Homo sapiens: one gene and its partners. The protein of the gene in region 1 interacts with the protein of each later gene in a pairwise test. Each region holds a gene or a part of one and is shown on either strand. Other genes may lie near its edges.

The links. The genes of interacting proteins can lie anywhere in the genome.
Region 2: the proteins of RNF183 (region 1) and APBB2 interact in binary tests that used the Homo sapiens proteins (3 or more experiments, as listed by UniProt).
Region 3: the proteins of RNF183 (region 1) and SPRED1 interact in binary tests that used the Homo sapiens proteins (3 or more experiments, as listed by UniProt).

What each region holds. Positions count from the first base shown.
Region 1 is NC_000009.12:113,299,757-113,309,129, reverse strand, and holds the start of RNF183 (E3 ubiquitin-protein ligase RNF183), read left to right. Parts: upstream 1-5,753; 5' UTR 5,754-6,074; intron 6,075-6,080; exon of another isoform or gene 6,081-6,816; 5' UTR 6,817-6,935; exon of another isoform or gene 6,936-7,378; 5' UTR 7,379-7,458; exon of another isoform or gene 7,459-9,274; intron 9,275-9,354; 5' UTR 9,355-9,373. UniProt on the Homo sapiens protein: Acts as an E3 ubiquitin ligase catalyzing the covalent attachment of ubiquitin moieties onto substrate proteins. Triggers apoptosis in response to prolonged ER stress by mediating the polyubiquitination and subsequent proteasomal degradation of BCL2L1.
Region 2 is NC_000004.12:40,808,325-40,812,542, reverse strand, and holds the end of APBB2 (amyloid beta precursor protein binding family B member 2), read left to right. Parts: 3' UTR 1-2,516; downstream 2,517-4,218. Other genes in the region: putative methyltransferase NSUN7, read right to left, coding at 3,604-4,218. UniProt on the Homo sapiens protein: Plays a role in the maintenance of lens transparency, and may also play a role in muscle cell strength. Involved in hippocampal neurite branching and neuromuscular junction formation, as a result plays a role in spatial memory functioning.
Region 3 is NC_000015.10:38,346,836-38,355,037, reverse strand, and holds part of SPRED1 (sprouty-related, EVH1 domain-containing protein 1), read right to left. Parts: intron 5,617-8,202; coding exon 5,515-5,616; intron 4,025-5,514; coding exon 3,374-4,024; 3' UTR 1-3,373. UniProt on the Homo sapiens protein: Tyrosine kinase substrate that inhibits growth-factor-mediated activation of MAP kinase. Negatively regulates hematopoiesis of bone marrow.

The DNA.
Region 1 (9,373 bases):
ATTTAAAATGTAAAGAGAGACAAAAGCTATAATCCAAATGTGTGGGCAATTATCTCTGTGTCTAAAGTTTTAGGTGAGTTTATTTGCTGTCTTTTTTTTTTTTTTTTTGCAACAGAGCCTCGCCCTGTTGCCCAGGCTGGAGTGCAGTAGCACGATCTCGGCTCACGGCAACCTCCACCTCCCAGATTCAAGCAATTCTCCTGCCTTAGACCCCTGAGTAGCTGGGATTACAGGCACGTGCCACCACGCCTGGCTAATTTTTGTATTTTTAGTAGAGACAGGGTTTCATCATATTGGCCAGGCTGGTTTCGCACTCCCGACCCTGTTATCCACCCGCCTCAGCCTCCCAAAGTGCTGGGATTACAGGTGTGAGCCACCGCACCCAGCCTGAAAACTAAGGTTTTCCATTAAATTTGGTGCCAAAACTTACCTGATCTTGTGATGTTTATTCTTTTCGGTGTCAATATTCATAATAAGCTGCAAGATATCAATGTTTGAATATAGGGTACTGCCCCAGATCCCACTGGGAGAATTGGGAGAGTTGGCAAATGCATCATCTTACCTTCCTAAAATTATGAAAAATTCTGAATTCTGAAACACACTTGGAACCAAATGTTTTGAATAAGGGATTGTGACTTGGAAAGCAAATTCAGATGCTGCACACAGCAGAGGCCGGGGGTGCCCATCCCCAGGCTGGGATTCACGTTGCCCTGCCTAAGGTGTCAGGTCCTTGGGAGCCTTTATGAATCTGAAGCTGAATATAATCAGAAGGCATCAAGGAGTATATACTGGAGGTATGTCTCCTAAATCAGTACTCTTCACTTGTAATGAATGTGTCTCTGAATCTCCCAGGGATCTCGTAAAAATGCAAATTCTGCCTCCGTAGGTCTGGAGTGGGTCTGAGATTTTGCATTTCTGTTTTTCTTTCTTTCTTTCTTTCTTTCTTTCTTTCTTTCTTTTTTTTTTTTTTTTTTTTTTTTTGAGACGTAGTCTCGCTCTGTTGCCCAGGCTGGAGTGCAATGGCACAATTTTGGCTCACTGCAATCTCCACCTCCCAGGTTCAAGCGATTCTCCTGCTTCAGCCTCCCGAGTAGCTGGGATTACAGGTGTCCATTACCACACCCAGCTGATTTTTGTATTTTTAGTACAGATGGGGTTTCACCATGTTGCCCAGGCTAGTCTCGAACTCCTGACCCCAAGGGATCTGCCTGCCTCAGCTTCCCAAAGAGCCAGGATTACAGGTGTTAGCCACCATGCCCGGCCAGATTTTGCATTTCTAACAATCTCTAAGTGATGCCTATGCTGCCGGAACTGTCCTAAATGCTAGACAAGCCTCAGGCAAGGCTCTGAGTGATGATGACATGGTGGCCCCCTAGGGAGAGTTGCCCTCTGCCCTTGACTGGGGCCTGCTAAACACTGACCATGCCGGATTCTAAACCTGCTGCACTCATCACCTTTTCTCCATCCTTCTGCCCTCTGCCACCTCTTCCTTCCCAGATGAGTTAAAACCACCCCACGCCTCTGCTCCAGACATTGGCTGGGCTCCACCGAGTCTCATGACTCTTCACTCACCCGGGTCTAAGGTACTGCTTAGGTGAGGTGCTTTTCCAGATGGCTGATCTTGCCCCCACAAGCATGAACTTTATAAATTAGTTTAACTCTCAAGTTCCTGAGATGCCTCACTATCTCTCCCGGGTATCTCCCTGGAAAAATTTTTCACTGTTGGCAAAGCACTCCTTAGCCTGACCACCCACAGACATTATGATAATGCATAGACTCACTAGACAATTAGTGACCTGGAAAAAAGCCATGACTTTTTAAATTTTATTTTATTTTTCTGAGACAGAGTTTCGCTCTTGTCGCCCAGGCTGGAGTGCAATGGCGCGATCTCGGCCCACTGCAACCTCCGCCTCCTAGGTTCAAGTGATTCTCCTGCCTCAGCCTGCAGAGTAGCTGGGATTACAGGCACCCACCACCATGCCTGGCTAATTTCTGTATTTTTAGTAGAGACGGGGTTTCACCATGTTGGCCAGGCTGGCCTCGAACTCCTGACCTCAAGTGATCTGCCTGCCTCGGCCTCCCAAAGTGCTGGGATTACAGGCCATGCCTGGCTATGACTTATTTTATTTTTATTTCAATGCTTACAATGTCATGACTGACTTCTTACCTGCCCTACCTGCTTATCTTTTTAAGTTCTGGATACCCTGGTTGCAGAAAACTCAGACTTAACTTACTTTCTAAGTGAACTTTCTTACTACAAAAGTAATACATATTTGAGAACTTGGAAAATGTAAGCAAGAAGAAAGCGAAAACATGAGTGGCCATCACCCAGAGATAAAATTGTGACATTTTGCCTCATGGTCTTGCAGTCTTTATACATAAATTATGCTTTACAAAATCTGGCTTATGCTACATTCTCTCTTTCTTTCCTTTTCTTTTCTTTTCCTTCCCCTCCCTCCCTCCCTCCCTTCCTTCCTTCCTCCTTCCCTCCCTTCCTTTCTTCCTCCCTCCCTCCCTTCCTTCCTTCTTCTTTCCTTCCTTCCTTCTCCCTCTCTTTTCTTCTTTTCTTTCTTTTTTTCTTTTCTATCTTTCACAGGGTCTTTGCTCTGTTGCCCAGGCTAGAGTGCAGTGGTGCAATCTGGGCTCACTGCAGCCTTGACTTTCTGGGCTCAAGTGATCCTCCCACTTCAGCCTTCTGAGTATCTGAGACAACAGGCATGTGCCACCACGCCCAGCTAATTTTTTATTTTTTTATTTTTTGTAGCAATGGGGTCGCTAGTCTTGAACTCCTGGGCTCAAGCAATCCTCCAACCTCGGCCTCCCAAAGTGCTGGGATTATAGGCATGTGCCCAGCCAACATGCACCGTTTTTTTGTTTTGTTTTGTTTTGGTTTTGGTTTGTTTGTTTGTGTTTTTTTTGAGATGGATTCTCTCTCTGTTGCCTGGGCTGGAATGCAGTGGTGCAATCTCGGCTCACTGCAACCTCCGCCTCCCAGGTTCAAGCGATTCTCCTGCCTCCTTAGCCTCCCAAGTAGCTGGGATTACAGGCACCTGCCACCACGCCCAGCTAAGTTTTTTTTTTTTTTGTATTTTTTAGTAGAGACGGGGTTTCAACATATTGGCCAGGCTGGTCTCAAACTCCTGACCTTGTGATCCGCCTGCCTCGGCCTCCCAAAGTGCTGGGATTACAGGCGTAAGCCACCGTATCCGGCCAACATGCACCATTTTTAAGCTGCTTTCCCCCTCCATTTACAGTATACTGTGACCATTTTTAAAAGTCAATGAAAATCTTTCTATATCATTTTAAATGATTATGTAGTTTTTCACCTAATTGATGGGGTTTTGGAGTGTTTTCAATCATTTGTGATTAAAATAAAACTGCAATGAATATCCTCACTCAACCAAAATATATCTTTTTGATGCTTCTGGGGAATTACATGATTAGGTCAAAGTAGATGAACTTCTTTATGTTTTCTTATGTTGCCAAGCCAGAAAGCGTGACTTCCAAACTCTCAAATACAAACCAGGTTCTTTGGACTAAATCAGTGTCTCGAATCCCCAGTAACCTCAGTTAACCAGTAGTGACACCGAAAAGCAGGGAATTCCAGAGCTGAGAGGAACTTTGAGGCCATCGGTGATCATATACCTCGTCTCCAGCTCAGAAAGAGGAGAATTACTTAGACATTTTCTTTAGAGATCTAAAACTTCCCAAAGTCCACAGTTTTATTTTCACACAATTCTAGGCTAACTTAAAATCAGCATTTTTGCATTATTCTTTCATTCAATATTTATATATTTATAATGAGGGGGTTAGATCAATAGGGGATTGGTGAAGTGATTTATGGTACAGCCATTCAATGAAATCTGATACAACCATTAAAAAACCGAAGAAGGTCTTCTTTTTTTTTTTTTGCTCTGTCGCCCAGGCTGGAGTGCAGTGGTACAATCTCAGCTCACTGCAACCTCTGCCTCCCAGGTTCAAGCGATTCTCCTGCCTCAGCCTCCTGAGTAGCTGGGACTACAGGTGTGCACCATGACGCCGGCTAATTTTTGTATTTTTAGTAGAGACGGGGTTTCACCATGTTGGCCAGGCTGGTCTTGAACTCCTGACCTCAAGTGATCCACCCGCCTTGGCCTCCCAAAGTGCTGGGATTACAGGTGTGAGTCACAGCGCTGGGCCAAAAACCGAAGAAGGTCTTTATGTACTAATACAGAATGATATCTCAAATACATCATCAAATGAAAAAAGAAAAATGCAGAACAGTGTACATAATATGCACATTTGTGTAAAAAGGAGGTAAAGGAATACATAGATGTTTTGCCATGGACATGCTGTTTGTGTATGTATAAAACATCTTTGGAAAGATACACAACAAACTGATAGTATAATACTTTGATTTCCAGGGAAACTAGGTGGCTGCGAAGAGACAGTTTTCACTGTGAAATCAAACCATTCACATGCTCAACCATGTAAATATATTACCTATTTAAAAATCAAATGTGGGCACGGTGGCTCAAGTGTAATCTTAGCACTTTTGGCAAGTGGATTGCTGGAGCCCAGGAGTTTGAGACCAGCCTAGGCAACCTGGAGAAACCCCATCTCTACAAGAAATACAAAAATTAGCCAGCCACGGTGGCATGCACCTGTAGTCCTAGGTACTCAGGAGGCGGAGGTGGGAAGACTGCTTGACCCCAGGAGGTTGAGGCTGCAGTGAGCTGTGATCGTGCCACCGCACCCCAGCCTGGATGATAGAGTGAGACTCTGTCTCAAAATAAATCAATACATAAAAATTAATGTAAAAAAACACAAAATGCGGGGACTAGGGCATTTGATTACATCACCAAGCAGATACATTTATTTACTTGTTTATTTCTCAAGTATGGCTGAAAATGTCAGTAAAGAAATAAGGGGCCAGGCGCGGTGGCTCATGCCTGTAATCTCAGCACTTTGGGAGGTCGAGGCAGGTGGATCACCTGAGGTCAGGAGTTTGAGACCAGCCTGGCCAACAAGGCGAAATCCTGTCTCTACTAAGAATGTAAAAATTAGCCGGGCATGGTAGCGCGCACCTGTAGTCCCAGTTACTCGGGAGGCCGTGGCAGGAGAATTGCTGGAACCAGGGAGGTGGGGGTTACAGTGAGCCAGTATCGCCCCACTGCACTCTAGCCTGGGCGACAGAGCAAAACTACGTCTTAAAAAAAAAAAAAAAAAAGAAAGAAAAAAAAAAAGAAAGAAAGAGAGAGAGAAAGAAAAGAGGACCATAGGTACAAAAAGAATTTGAGCGGGAACAAAAGATGGGCCACGTGAACAGACCGGTTATAACAATAATAGTTCTGGTTAACATTTAGCGAGTTACTGTCTGCCAGGCCCTGTGTTATTACGCGATCTCGACACGTATTACCTCATTTAATCTACAGATCAAGTAGGTAGGTTATTATGGCCATTTTCAGGTGAGGAAACTGAGGCTGGCAGAAGTTAATTAATTTGCTCAAGTCTCCATCGGTAGTTAAACGGAGTTTGGATTCTCAGTGAGGGCTGAACTCTGACCTAGAAGTGTGCCTTGCTTGAGAACCCTGGCTCTTCAGGCAGACGCTCAACCGTCTCCCGACTATTTTTCTGCTGTATTAGTGGCCGCTTTTGTCAGTATTTTGCAAGAGCTATCTGTATTTTGGTTACAGGGACTCAGCATAGGGAAGGATCCATCTCGGCAGAAGCCAGGAGTCGAGGCAGGTCAGCGCACAGAGGACAGTGGAATCCGAGGGGATGGCAGGAGATCAATCGGACCCAGAACAGAGGCCTGCAAGGATGAGCGCACTTGATCCCCTCAGAGAAAAAGCCAGAGTGACTCACAGGAGAAAGACAAAGCAACCAAAGCTTCCAGGGTGTACAGGAGGTCCAAAGTCACCAGAAGGAAGAAGAAAACCTGAAACAGCGAGAGCTGGCCAAACGCTGCTAAGACCTATGCAAATAAGACCCACCCACGCTACCTGGAAATCGGGCCTGGGAAGTCAGAAAACAAAGCACATGCGTGCAGGGCTGCACGAACGGAGGCGGAGGAGGCGGCTCCGAGGGAGCAGGTAAGGAGACAGAGAGGGTCGCGGAGGGACGGGTCACAGGGCTCCAGAGTCCAGAGAGGCAGCAGCCGTGCAGCGCGCGACAGGTGAACTCTGGCCTGGGAGGGCAGGCTACTGGGTTCATCTTTCAAACTCAGCCACTCTTTAGCTGGGAAGACTTCGGCAAGTTGCCTCACCCTTCTGAGCCTTGGCTTCCCCATCTAGAAAATGGGTCTAAAAATAATCATGCTAACTCTGTATTGAGCGCCTTCCGTATTCTACTGGGCACCGTATAGACTATTCCTTCCCCAGAGCAACCTTGTAGGAGTGGGATGATTAGCCTTTTTTACAGAGGAAAATGAAGTTCAGAGAGGTTAAGCCATTTGTCCAAGACAAATTGTTCCAAATCTGGTTCCAAAGCCGGCACCTTTCTACTCCCCATTCAGCCTCTCTCACAGGGTGGTTTTAGAGTATCAAATGGCTTTCTGCAAACAACAACAAAAAATCCCAAAAGGCTAGTAACCTATCTAGATGGATCACCACACTTAGATCTTAGCAAGGGCCAGGGCCCTTTGTAAACTGTGAAGTGCTATGGAAATGCCAGTTCTTGGTTGAAAACAATGGAGTGATGCTGGGGACAATTGATATTTGGCGATGACTTGTTCATAGACCAAGGAGATGACTTTGGGGCGGTGTTTAGGATTTACTGTAGCTGAGATGTCCTGGCTTGGGGTGGAGGTGATACATGGCCAGAATCTCTCCCCAGCTGATCCTGAAACAGCAGTGGATCCCTGGGAGAGCAGCACAGATAAAGATCCAGGCAATAATGATGCTTCCTCCTCTTGGACAGCCTTTTACAGTTCTGGCCATGGAACTTCAGAGAAGGTAGGTCTGATTTGGGGGGAAACAGGAGATCTTGACGTGTAGTAATACAAGCTTACTGGATGGAGTAAAGTTAGAATTTTCAGGTAAGAGAATTAAAAAAAAAAAAAAAACTTATAATCTTGCCCCCAGAGATAACCACTGCTAATATCTGGTTGTTTATCTCTCCAGACATTTTTTCCATTGCACACACACTTTTGGAAATTGGATTATATGGTAATATGGTTTTGTTGCTGGTTCTTTTTCGCTTAATGACATTATATCCTAGGTATATATCCATATTAATAGTTTTACCACATCATATTAAAGGCTGCATAATATCTCTTCCTATGGATGGAGCAGAATCTACTTAATCAATGTCCTATTACTGGATGATGACGTAGTTCTCCATACGTCACCGTTAAACCAGCGCCTGGATGGGCATCTCTTTACTCACATCTTTGCAGAAGTCCTTGATGGTTTCCGTGGAATCGATTCCCAGTGGGGGAAATGATGAGTCAAGGTTACATACAGTTTACGGCCTCTGGTAAGTATTAAAGATCTGCTTCTAACACACTCTGGGATTCAGGGGCTTCTCAAAGCTTGATGCAGAGGACTTTGTCACGGCTTTGAAATCAACCTTGACCCTTCCTTTCTCTCAAATCCATTTGCATTAATAATTTCAACTGCCTCATATATCCATAACAATGTTTTGATCAACAGTGAATTACATATGTGATGGTGGCCACCTAAGATTATAATACCATATATTTACCTTGCCTTTTCTAAGTTTATGTTGAAAGACACACGCAATTATCATTGTGTTACAATTGCCTACAGTGTTCAGAACATAATAAGCTGTATGGGTTTGTAGCCTAGGAGCAACAGGCTAGACCGTATAGCCTAGGCATGTAGCAGGCTCTACCATCTAGGTTTGTGTAAATACTCTCTGTGCTGTTCATACAACGATGTGTTTCTGAGAACATAGTCCCATTTTTAGGTCATGCATTGCTTTGTGGTCTTTACTGGGTGCTGGGCTCTAACTAAAAGCTTTACTAGTTTTGGCTTCCTTTGCACAAGGAGAAATAGAGGCACAGAGAGGTCAAGCAATTCAACTGGAATCACAGCCCTAAATAGCCATGGATCTGGCATCATGAACCTTGACAGAAACTACAACTGGATCCCTAGAACTCCACTGCTTCTTGGGAAGTGGCTTTGATTCTGTCCCCAAAGATATCACTTATCCCATCCCCTTTTATCTCCTCTGCCACTGCCTAACCTGCACCACCATCACACGCCTGAGCCACACTGCTGCAGCCCGAACGGGTGTTCCCTTCCCGATCTTATCCCTCTCAGCCTGTCCTCTGCTCTGCAGCTAGAATGGTGTTTTAAAAATGGAAATAGGATCAGGTACCTTACCCTACCGCTCACCCCTGGAATAAAATCCAGATGAGCTCCTGAGTTCACAGGTCCCGAGTACTATACCCTCCCACCTTGCCTACTCCGGTCACCACACCTTGATCACCCTGGGCTCCTTTCACTTTCTCAAATTGGAAGAGCTTTTCTCACCTCGGGGCCACACATGCTGTTCCCTGGGCCTGCAACGCTCTTCCTCCACTGTGCGTGGCTGGATTCCTATATACTTTGGTCTCAGCTCTTCTGTCATCTCTTTGCAGAAACCTTCTCTGGTGGTCTCATTGGGAGCAGCCACCAAGCACCCGAAGCCCATTTTCCTTTTTGCCCTTTATTAACAACCATTAAAATTGTGTATTTATTTATTGCCCATTATTCATTAAATGTCTTTTTGCCTCACTACACTCTAAATGTCATGAGGTCAAAGACAATGTCTATTTTGTTCACCATAATACCTTGCACAGCACCTGGGCTAGAGTAAGCACTCAATAATGTCCGAGTGGATGAATGGACTGCAGAATAAAGCACTGGTGCAGAGCCCTGCTAAACTACCCTAGTTTCGCTTAGGGCTCCATCTCCCTCTGCATATCTTCATTTCCTCCTTCCCTGTTTGGAGCAGTGCCAGAGGTCTAGAAGAAAACCAGGAAGCCACAGGTCCGAGAGTATAAGCAGGTTTTGCTTCAGACATCGGCTCAGTCGGGGTAGATGATGTCATATCAGGGGCTCTAGGGAGACTCCCTTCCCCCAGATCCCCTCTTCCACAGTTCCTGGATTTCTACCATGAGTCTTCTGGCCGTGAAGGATTCCTGATCACATGCAAACACTTATTATCTAGCTAGTAACACGCACTGAGTAGGGGGACGGCATGGATGCAGCCTTCTGTCTTTACGAAAACCATGAGTCTGAAGACATGGGTCCCATGTCACCATTAACTAGCTGGGTGACTTTGGGTGAGTCACTTCTTGTCTCTCATCTGCAAAGTGAGTAGTTCAGATGGAGAATTGGTTTTTAAACTTTTTCTTTTCCCCAGCAGATCAACTCTTCAAATT
Region 2 (4,218 bases), on another chromosome or scaffold:
GCCAGGCTTAACCTAATACACATCTAACGTGTGTGCCACACGGCCAGTAGAAAGTTTAACTTCAGCTTCAGGGCAAAGATACCCACTCACACCGTGTCAACGCAAGCAGTAGTTCCTGGCCTCCAGAGCAGCTTACTTCCCCTGAAAGAACGCTTTGTTTTCCTTTATGCCCTTTTCCTGTTGACCACTTTTACACATTTAAATGTAATTTGTTGTGAGAATAAATTTAGCTGCATAAAACGTTCGGCTCATTTATCTGACATCTTAGTCACATATACAAGGAATAGAAATAGAAACTCGGTGTCTCTAGTTATTTTTAAATTATTCTTACCTCAGACTTCTTAGAAATCACTTTAGTAATGGAGCATTTTGCTTTGATTAGTTACTACATATTTCTGCCTGGTAAGAACTAGGAAGTAACTTCAAATTTTGAGTAATCACCCTGTACTTATTTGGTGATCAGGAAGGCCAGCTGGCCTTCCGGACATAGAAGCCTATTTAGTCACCAACTCGAGTCTTTTGTAAGCGGTCTTGCTAGGATTGTGATATTTTAGCACGAAGAAGTTTATCACTTCCTTTAAGAACCTGACATCAAAGAATAAAGAATAGAGGTGTACACACACTAAATCCAAAATGAAAGGTAACTAGAGAAATCAGTTGAATCTGGTTTAGCTTAACTGTTAGGCGCAGGAAGGCAGATAAACAGAATTTAAAGTATGTCCCCGCTTTTTGTTCATCTTGCACTTCCACAGTGGTTTCTCTCTAGTCAGTAACAAAATTTCATTATGGTTTCAGGCATTATATGGTGGTAAATAATTTCAGATTAAAAATGTGTTTGCTATTGGAGTATCTGAATACTAGTAATTTCATTATTTAGAATTTTGCAGCACTTTTATCTCAAGAAGAAGTCCAAGAATGTAAAATGCCAAATGAAACATGTCAGTGGAATCAATATTCTCCTTCATTAGAATTCCCTCATATTGCTTTTTTTTTTTTTCTTCAGACAGAGGAGTCTTACTCTGGAGTGCAGTGGTGTAATTTCAGCTCACCACAACCTCCACCTCCCAAGTTCAAGCAATTCTCGCCTCAGCCTCCTGAGTAGCTGGGATTACAGGCATGCACCGCCACGCCTGGCCAATTTGTATATTTTTAGTAGAGACAGGGTTTCGCCACGTTGGCCAGGCTGGTCTCGAACTCCTGACCTCAGGTGATCCGCCCGCCCCAACCTCCCAAAGTATGTGAGCCACCACGTCCGGCCTCATATTGCTTTTATCCAAAATTCTTTTCCCTTTTCACTCTACCAAAGTATTTAAATAATCCTGTCCTTCATAGAAGATTCTCAAAGAAGAAAACTGCAGTGTAATTAATGAATGGTTTAATTCAGAATCTTCATATACTTCTAAAGAGAAAAATAATTTAGTGCCAAATGCATGTTAGGAGATAATCAATGTAAGTGGCAACAAATTGTGACTTCACATGCTACTGTAGAGATCAGAAAATTATCCTAAACTATTCCATAACAATGAGACAACATCACAGAAAATACACTTGAAAATAAAAATCTCAAGACCAGCTACTTCTGGACAATGGAATACTTTTCAGTCTGGTATGGTGGAGGGCCCGAAAAGGATAAGGGATTCTTATGATACACAATGGGATTCTTTACTGAACAATATGTTAAATTAAGCTGCACCGCCTTCCTTGAGGCATGGACTACCCTAACCAACCAGATAGAAATCTGGGTGGGATAAGAGGATGAGCCACACGCTATAATTTTAGGGCAAGGAGATAGTGTTTGATTTTCAAAATCAGCAAAATAAGCTGAGCACTTTATATCTTTCTGTACAAGAGTGATAACATGAAGAATTCTTCTTCAGGGATTTAAAATACAATAAGCCTGGTTCAACTATAAAAAGTCTTGTTTCCTTTCTTCATTGACACTTTTTTTTTTTTTTTTTTTTTTTTGAGGCAAGGTCTCACTCTGCTTCCCAGGCTGGAGTGCAGTGGGGCAATATTGGCTCACTGCAACCTGCACCTCCTGGACTCAAGAGATCCTCGTACCTCAGCCTCCTAAGTAGCTGGGACTACAGGCGTGTCCCACCACACCCAGCTAATTTTTGTATTTTTTGTAGAGATGGGGTTTTGGGGTTTCGCCATGTTGTCCAGGCTCGTCTGGAACTCCGGTGCTCAAGTGGCGTGCCCACCTCAGCCTCCCAAACTGCTGAGATTACAGATGTGAGCCACTGCACCCAGCCCACTGACACGTTTTACTGATAAATGTAAATCTAAGCTAAAATAAAAATAATGTATTACCGCTATAATACAATTCACCATTCTCTTTTCTCACTTCAAGTAAGAAAGTAAAAATAGAATATCAGAGCTGAAGTAGACCTAAGTATTCATCTTGAAGAAGATAATATTCTAAAAATCATGCCACCTGAATTGAGCATTTAGGAATTTATGTAACATTTCTATACAACTGAATTGCAAAAATAAAACTTTAAATTCAAACTTTATGAATATGTCTATGAATGTTTTTAAATAATAAGATATATAGTTGTATCTTAATTCTATTTAATGACAATTTCTGTTGCCATGATGAAAAATCAGTAGACCCAGAAATGATAATCATACCAATTTTTGGTAGGCAATTGAGAATACATTCAAGATGAATCGACATTTAATATAATTAATTAACATAGTGCTACAATATATTTAATTGTGCCTCAGAAATGATTTACCAAAGTTTGATTCCTGTGTGCTATTTGAAATGACTTGTAGATTTTGTTGTATCCCCTGATCTTAGAATCAGAAATTTGTGGGTTTCTTCAACAATAGGTATCGCTTGCATTCAACAGTTTTGCCTCTTCTTCAGAATTATTAATATTTAGATGGAAATTTGCTCACAGTCTTTTGTAACAGTGCTTGACATAGAGGAAGGGAGAGATGATTGTGTCCAGTCTGCTCAGGATCCTGGAAGCTCCCCCAGTGAGAGACACCTCACTGTAAAAGGAACTCTGAGCTACACACACCTGGCACTTGGGAACTTCCTGCGCTTCCTACTTAAACTCAACTTCAGTCACGTTACAAAAACTCATGTTCATTCCCTGTTCAAAGAACAGCTTGATATTTAAGAAAAAATCACCCTTGATCGTGACTGAGAAAGTCACGACTACAACCGCATGGATGCTGAAGAGCGGTCAGCTGGCGGGAGAGGCCAGGATCGTTTGCCTGTTTGGCTTTCTAATGAGCTACCTGCTGAAGGGAGGCAGTGTTTCCTTCCCTGCAGGGGAAACTTGGCAGCTTTAAGTCCAGCCTGAAAGTTCACAGGAGTGAGATAAGTTCTGACCGCTGATACTGAGTCTCTAACTGGATCCTCTCAGAGCAGCAGTGATTGGCTGAAGTCTCTGAATTCTGCTTTGCTGACTCCTACATTATTGTTTCTCACTTGTCTGAATTCTCTGAAAGTAATATCACACTTAGAAGATCCCTAGGTGACCAAAAGAATGAATATCTTGTGTAGAGATGTAGAATCTTCAGAGAAATACTAGACTTTGAAAAAAAATCAACTGCTCTTTGGCCCCTATAAAAAACACAAGACAATCAAAGCCATCGCCGAGGAGGCCTGAGTAGGGAGGAAGGTGTGTCATCTTTAGGCTTTTCCTCTTTTCTGGATAGTGAGTGTGTGGGAAGGCAGGTGGGCACAAGTGCCTTGGGTGCAACCCAACGACAGTACAAATGTTGAGTTGGCATCCGAGATCTGATCCCTTGGGGACTTGAAAATGGCATAAAGACTGGAGGCAGAACAATCTTGATGGGTTTCAGAGCAACCATTCTGTCTTCTGGCCGAGGTCTTAAGAAGTGTGTCTGCCGTTCACGCGGTCTGGAGGGACAAGTGTTCTTCACAAATGCAGGCACTGCAGGATGGGGGGCCAGCTTGTTGGGTTTTCTGGTCTGTGAGGAAGCCCCCACTTGAGCAGTATTTTTCTGGGGAAGAGGTGGTTTTGTTACAGTCTCTGATAGATTAGCACTGGCTTTAGTTTCTCGATTCAGGAACTCAGCAATTTTCATTTGGATGCCATTATCAGTAGTGGCACCTTTTGTCAATGATGTTTTTGATTTTTTCTTCTTCTTCTCCCGTTTTGATGATTTACCCAACTCAATCCCATCCAGCAGACCCTTGGCTGCAGCTCGGGCCAAAACATCATTCACAGACAC
Region 3 (8,202 bases), on another chromosome or scaffold:
GTTGCAGTGAGCTGAGATCGCACCATTGCACTCCAGCCTGGGCAACAAGAGTGAAACTCCGTCTCAAATAAAAGAGAGAAAAACGTACACACACACTCTCTGAAGCTGTCATGATAAAATACAGGTGTGATTATGTTTTTTCATGTTTTGATTATTATTTTTAAAAATTCTCCCTGACTGGCGGAAGGAGGAAAAAAATACCATTTTGGTAATGGCTTTTGAGAGTTAAAGCAACTGGTTCTATAAATGCCTCAGTACATCCATTAAGTTTGATTGCCAGTCCCAAATATCAACAAATATTTTAAAACAGGATATGTAAGAAAAAAGTGCTTAAAATCTTTCAGCAAGCCAACAAGACACATTAGGTAAATAACCATTTTACAATTCCTTTGAGACAGTTCTTATTCCTGGTTTCCCTGGTAGAGGTGGTCACCACATAAATAGCCCTTTAATGGTAGTAGTGATGAACCCTGTCAGATCCCTATTGCCATCTCATGTCTCTGGCCTGGAAATCATCCAGTAGGTGGTGCTGAAGCTCCACACGACATACTTCTTCAGAAATCAAATGATGTCCCTTTTGAAGCCAAGAGAAATATTTAAGAATTATCAATTCTGAACAAGTTCATCAGACCAGTCTTGCTTGTCATGCCGTCTAGATGATTCCATTTTCAATACTATTACTCAAGCAGTTGTCTTGAGCCATCTGCTTATATCAGATAAAAACAAAGAAAAGTTTTAGAGGAAAAGCCAATTGGCAGTGCCGAATCTGTACAGAGAATGAGAAAATGTTCCTGAAGGTGCCTATACACATGTTTAAGAATCAGTGATTTAAACTACCCATTTGCTTTCACAAAGGAATTCTCATTTACTCAAAAGAAAATTTCCATATAGGGATTCAGAGAACATTATATCATCAGTTAGTCTTGTAGACTGATTAAGAAACTGGGTATGTTAACTATAAAGATCCAAGGTAAAATAAAAACCATTTCATCACCATAGTTTTTAATGAAGAAACTTGTTTAAAATTGTAAAGGAAAAAATGGGAATGGGACGGCAAAATCTTAGCAGCAAAGTGGTTAAACAAATTGAAAATATTAATGCACAAACATTAAAATATTAAAGCATATATGTTGCATATAAAATACAGTACAGAACCAGGAGTTGCACTATACTGATTAGTGCTTAACAGAAGAAATGATTAAATTTGTTCCTCCCAGAAGTATATACACAGTTCATTTCCACAGCATTTTCCTATATAGCCAGCAAGTTATTTTCTTCAGTTATTCACACCTTGATCAAACCTGAATTATAAACTTAGCACTTACAAATATGAAAATTCATTCACAAGGAAAAACAGTATTTCCATTTCACCAATAAAAATTTTGAAAGTTAACAGTCTATTCTAGGAAACCAAGTTTAGCTGAAAACTTCAGGGATGAAGATCATCTGTTGTAGCAGCATTCAAATATATAAACAGTAAAAATAAGACTTAAAACTGCTGCCTACAGTGTCATGTTTTGGATTTAGTTCATCCAATTGATTTTTAGTACAAAACTAGAAATACCCTCTTCTTCATAACATCTATAGTTATCAATATATTTTCTTCTTTTCAATGTGAAATAATACTTCAAGATGATCTATATACACAATGTTGTCAGTTCAAGCTGTCATATAAATATAAATGCTTTCTTAAAAAAAGTATTTTACAGACAGATAGTGTTATATACATTGTTCAGTTTGATCTGGGGCAAAAGAAAAAAGCTAACACAAGCTTAAGTGTGATATATAAAAAGAATGATACATAAATGACGTTTAAAAACCTGCATAGAAAATGAGCTTCAAATAGTAGTGTGATTTTAATTTTTATCACCTCTGAAACTTCAAGCCATTAAAAAAAAGGCACACTTCTCAACTTTATCCCTCTAAGGGAATGTTCTTAAAGAACCCTTTCCTTGGTTAGAGTTTTAATGTAACACTTAAGAAAACAACAACAACAACAACAAAACAAAAACAGACAATTTGACTTCAAGGTACTTTAAAGTTTGTTGGAACATTTACCCAACTATTTTGTAAATTAAACATCCAGTAATATAATGCTCTGCAAAAGAAATAAATTTATATGTACAAGATACTTCATTTACAATGTTGGATTAAATACTTTCCTGGGATAGTTTAGCACACATTTTAACATAAAATAATTTTGCTTTTGGCCAGTTTAAATAAAAATAAAATGTAACTGATAAAAAGTTATTGTTATGTAAATAATAAGCACTGAGGATTAAGCTGAAAAATTAGTAACACAGCTGAACATATTCTGGTTTAGCAGAATGATACGTGAAGATCTCAACATGAAGCTTTTACACTAACTATCCAGTCAAACTTTCTGCCTTGTAAAACATTTGTAAATGCAATATAACTTTTTGAAGGAGGAAACTCTGAAAGAAAACAACTTGCTGGTTGAATACCACAAAAAACAACTAAAAAACTTCACTTTTTTTCTATAATGTTTGTTTACTCAGTCTCTTTTTATATAAAAATAAGTGTTACGTTCCCATCAGAACATTAGACAATTACATCTGTGCTTTAAAAAAAAAGTTGGTCACTCAAGGCTATTAGAGTATTTTTAAGGATTTTAGATTACCAGAATGTACAGATATAACTCAATATAAATTGTAGCCAAAGAGAAATAAGGATGAAAATATCAAATCATTCGCATGGAATAAAAACATTATTAACTAGATGAGTTAAATATTCAAAATATATGGAATGTGACAGTAGATATATATATATATATATCTACTTCAGAACTAGGAAGGGGAAGAAAAGTTTAATATGTAATAATTCGTACCTTACATTTAGTTAAATATAAACATTTGTTATTTATACATAAAACTGCTTTCAAAAAACAACTAATAAATGATTTAGTTGCACTTGTTTTACTTCTTGTAATTCCCAAGTGTTAACTTTTCTTAGATTGAAATCAACTGTCCCCTAGTGCACTTTTATTTTTAGTTCGTGTCCTAATAAATTCAAACCTTTAAAAGTCCCATCACCTAATGCATAAATATACAAAAATGCCAAAAATTAATCCCTTTTAGTTGGATCATATTTTATGCTGACTTTTTATAGCCAAATAACCAGAAATGGTTTCCTTCTGCAAATACTCTACAACCTGTAACAAAACATGCCATGCACTCAAGGGAAAAGTTAGGCATGGCGTGAAACGCCAAGAACTGATGAGTTCTGCTTCCTCCATGTGTGGGCTCAATGATACCAGGCAAGATTCCATATTGCTTGCCAAAAGCTTCCACAAATCCAAGTTAGCTAATTCCTGGAAACAAAGATTTTAAGCTCATTTTGGCACTGGACCATTTCATCCAGCAGCTTTATGTTTCCCACCACAGCAACCACATGCCTCACCACAGCGATGGCACATTCTCAAAGGGACGTAGCAGCACATACATGGTACAATGAAAGACAAAGCTACCAGGGCTAACCATCGCAAGCAGAACTTGTCGTCGCTAGTGTCACACGAACAGGGATCAGAAAAATCTCCCTCTGAGTCTGACATACAATGATACAACATGCTCTCTGCACAGAGCATGCAACTAACTTGATATATGCATCTTTTAATAGGGTCTGGAGCATCCTGACATTTTCCCCTAACATTTTCTTCATGATTAAACCTTTCCTGGCAGTATACGCAGCGAGAACGTTCACCATCCTCTTTTCTTCGTTTTGACTTCTTAATTTTTAATGAGGAAGGCTGCGTCTTAAATACCACAGAGTCTTTGGGTGAACTTAACTTAGTCTCATCCCCACAAGAGTACAGATAGTCTGATTTTTTACTGTCTGGTTTAGAAAACTGAATACTGGAATCAGCATCATCTCTTTCCAAGTCATTTTTCCACATGTCAGGATGTCTGTAGTCTGCATAGCGACGTATTAAGATATCTCGAGGGTTTATTCTGACAATCTCATCCTCATCTTGAAAGCTGACATGTCTGATTGATTTCAAAGGGACCTAAAAAAGAAACAGATAAAAACTGCAATGAGGGCTATGATGGTTAATTTTACGTGTCACCTTGGTGGGGCCAGTGTCCAGATATTTGTTGAAATATTATTCTGGACATTTCTATGATATGTTTTTGGGATGAGATCAACATTTCAGTTGGTGGACTATGAGGAAAGCACAGTACCTTCTGTGGTATAGGCGGACCTCATAAAATCAGTTGAAGGCTTTACTAGAACTAAGACTGAGCTCCCCCTGAGCAAGAAGAAATTCTGCCAGCAGGGTGCCTTTGGACTCAGACTACAACTATTTCTTGGGTCTCCAGACAGCCTACCCTGTTTTGGATCTGTACCTCTACTATTGCATGAGCCACTTACCCACACTTGATTGAAAGACGTTATTTAGATGAGATTTGGGACTTAAGAGTTGATGCTGGAATGGGTTATGTCTTTGGGGCTGTTAGGATAAGGATGAATGTATTTTGCAAGTGAGAAGGGCATGATTTTGGGAACAAAGGACAAAATGTTATGGTCTGACTTATGTCCTCTTCAAATTCATATGCTGAAGCCCTAACCTCCAGTAATGCGACTGTATTTGGATATAGAGCCTTTTAAGAGGTGACTAAGTTAAAATGTGGCCCTTAAGAGAGACTTTAATCCAATCTGACTGTTTTCTTTATGAGGAAATTTGGACACACAGAGAAAGACACCAGGGATGTACGGGCAGAGGAAAGAGCATGTGAGGGCAAAGTGAGGAAAGACCATGTGAGGGCAGCTACCTGCAAGCCAAGAAGAAAGGCCTCAGAAGAAACCAAACCTACCAACAACCTTGATCTTGAACTTCTAAGAATTGTGAGAAAATAAATTTCTGTTGTTGAAGCTACCCAGTCTGTAATATTTTGTTGTGGGAGTCCTAGCAAATTAATACAAAGACACACATGTGTGTAGCTTGGGTACACAAAAAGTCTCTGAACAATGACGTAAAATACCCCTACTTCCACAACCCTTCTGGGAAGGTTGGTTCTTTGAGGCCAAAGAACAAAATTAAGTCTTTTGACCCCTTACATCATCCATAAATGCAGGCTTCTAAGTAGACAAATTTGTATCTTTAGCTCCAGTCCCTGGACACAGTGACTAGTCTACTACAAGTAAGCATCTGACTCAGTTTGGGGCAAACTTCTATTTCCTAGATACATGGAATTAGGGCTAAGAAAATTCTAGGTCTGAGCTAAAGGTGGGGTGACAGATACAGTTTATTTAATTAACAATATATAATTCCTTTTGGTCCTATCTAATAAATGCAGCTCTGGCAATCTTTTAGACTCAAATGAGAAGTTTGCAGAGTTTTTAACTAACAGCGTTTAAGCACATAGGCAGCAAATTTATACAATGAAAAATTTTCTAGTACAATTCAACTATATGGAGAATTAGAAAGACTGGAAAACTTTACCTATCTATTAATTAGTTAAATTCCATATCACAAGATAAACTAACATTACTTACCCTATTTTGGGACTTTAGGCTTCCACATTCCTTGGATATTTGCCGCTGTACGTATTCCATACTTCTGCTCTGAATGTCCAAGCCTGGCTGACCAAATGTTATCTAAAATACAAACAATTTCTACTTAAATGACACAAGAATTTTACTTTTAATGAAACTGTACAGTGTATGTTCCAAAACCTCATAATTTATTAGCAGTAAAGTTTTTCAAAAACGGTTTTGAGAATAAAAATAGAATCATTTCCCCCCACCTAAAACACAAACAAAAACCATAGGTCTTTTCTTACATATTTAAACTTTAACAAGTAATGAATACATAGTCAAAAAAGTACAAACAACCCAAATATTCATCAACTAATGAACGGATAAACAAAATGTAGTAAATCCATAGAGTGGAATATTATTCAACCACAAAGAGAAATAAAGTAGTTACACATGTCACAATAATGGTTGCCAGGGGCTGGGAATAGGGAAGGAGGGGCAATGACTGATAATCAGTGTGGGTTTTTTGGGAAGTGATATGGAATTTGATACTGCTGATGGCTGCACAATCTTGTGAATATAATAAAAACCACCAAATTACATACTTTTTTAAAGGATGATTTTGTGGTAGGTGAATTATATAGCAATAAAAAAATAGGAATCTTTAGTGTCCTGATACATTTACAAGTGTTTCGAATTGCAAAGCCCATTTCAGACCTAAATTATAGCTAGAATATATCAATGTTTAATTTTTAAAATTTTATGGTGAAAAATTCTAATATACATAAAAGGAGAGAATAATGTTATGAATCACCATGGGTCTATTATCTAGCTTCACTTATCATCAACATTTTGGCAATCTTGTTTACTTCTTATTTTTCCAGATAATTTTGAGCCAACTCCTACTGTTACATACTTAATAAACACTATAACCCTGAAAATAAATAGTAATACATGCAGATAGCAAAATTTTCAAATAGTATAAAAGCACATGAAGTAAAACTCTTCCTTCCATCTTAGACCTTTCAGACCCAGTTTTAAAAGTTAACTATCATAAAAAAAATTTTTTAGTGCATTCCTCCAAAAATTTTTACACACACAGACACACACACACACACACACACAGATCTTTAAAATAGGACCCTTTGTACTGTGCCCTTGGTCTCTGCATTTAATGATACAATATGGAGGCCATTCTATGTTTATAAGTAGAATCTGTAAGAATTTAGAAATTAACAAGAGGAAATAACTATGGATTAAATGGTCTGGGAAGGCATGAAAGGAAATGCGACTTGAAGTAAACACAGAATAAGCTAGATATTTGGTCAAGTGAAAAAAAGAAAAACAGAAGAACATTACACAAAAGGAAGCAGAGAGAACAATTTTTTTTCCTGATAGAACACAATGACCTCAACTAGTATATTAAATATACATTTCTAAGAACTATTCTAAAGAGTAAAAATGTCAATTTTCTCACCACTGTCTCAGAAAAAAGTCACACACACCACTTAAACACATACACACTTTGAAAACTACCTGAGTCAACAGGGTCTATGAATATTAGTTCTCTCACACAATCTCTAAGTGAAAAGACAAATAAATGGACAATATTGACCTTTTCACACTTACTAAAAACAGATGTGATAAGATACACCCCAATTAATTTCTGCTTTTTAATACCCTCAAAATTTGGTACTTTTGCTATAATCTTCAGGAAAATTTATCAGCTGAAAAAGTCATAAGAGATGCTTCTTCAAAGCTGGTCACAATTAAAATTTTAAAAGGATTCCATTTATAATAGAACAACAAAAATGGTACAAAGAAATAATCCTATAAAATATGTATTATCTTTTCACAAAGAAAATACAAAGTTTTATGTAAAGATACAGAAGAAGAGCTAAACAGAGGTATATATCATATTCACGAATAAGATGATAAATTATCCCCTAAACTAACACACACATTCAGCGCAATTCAAATATAAACCACAAAAGGATTCTTCATCAGATTTGACAAGCTGATTCTAAATATTTTAAAAGGGCAAACAGCCAAATTGAAAAAAAAAAAAAAAAAAAAAAAAGATCCAAGCGGGAAAACAAAGTTAGGCACTTTCTCTACAAATATTAAGTTATTATAGAGCTACAGCATTTCTACAGTAAAGATGACAATGTGACACTAATTTAGATTAGAGACATCAGAAACAGACTCAAACATATATAGAGAATTGATGTGTCAGATATGGTACTGCATATCAGTGCGGGGAAAGGCTCCAATAAACAGTGCGGGGACAATTAGTAACCTATGTGGAAAAAATAAAATTTGGTCCCTACCATAGAAGAGAAATCAAATTAAAGTGGATTAAAGACAAAACTTTAAAACTTTTAGATTAGGAAGAAAATCTTTAAGATGAGGATAGGGAAGAGTCTGTAAAAATAATGAGAAATGATAAATTCAACTGCATTAAAATTTATAATGTCTGCTCACCAAAACACCACAAAGAGTGAAAAATAATCACCAACTAGGAGATACTAGCCACAAATAAAACTCAGAAAGATCTGAATCCAGAATATACAGGGAAGTAACACAGAACATTTGATTACCTAGTAACAAGGCCATATGAAAGCATGCAGTTAAAATCCATTTGTAAAGGAACAATCACAGTTATTTCCGAAGTCTTTCAAATACTCAATACATATCCCCTGTAGG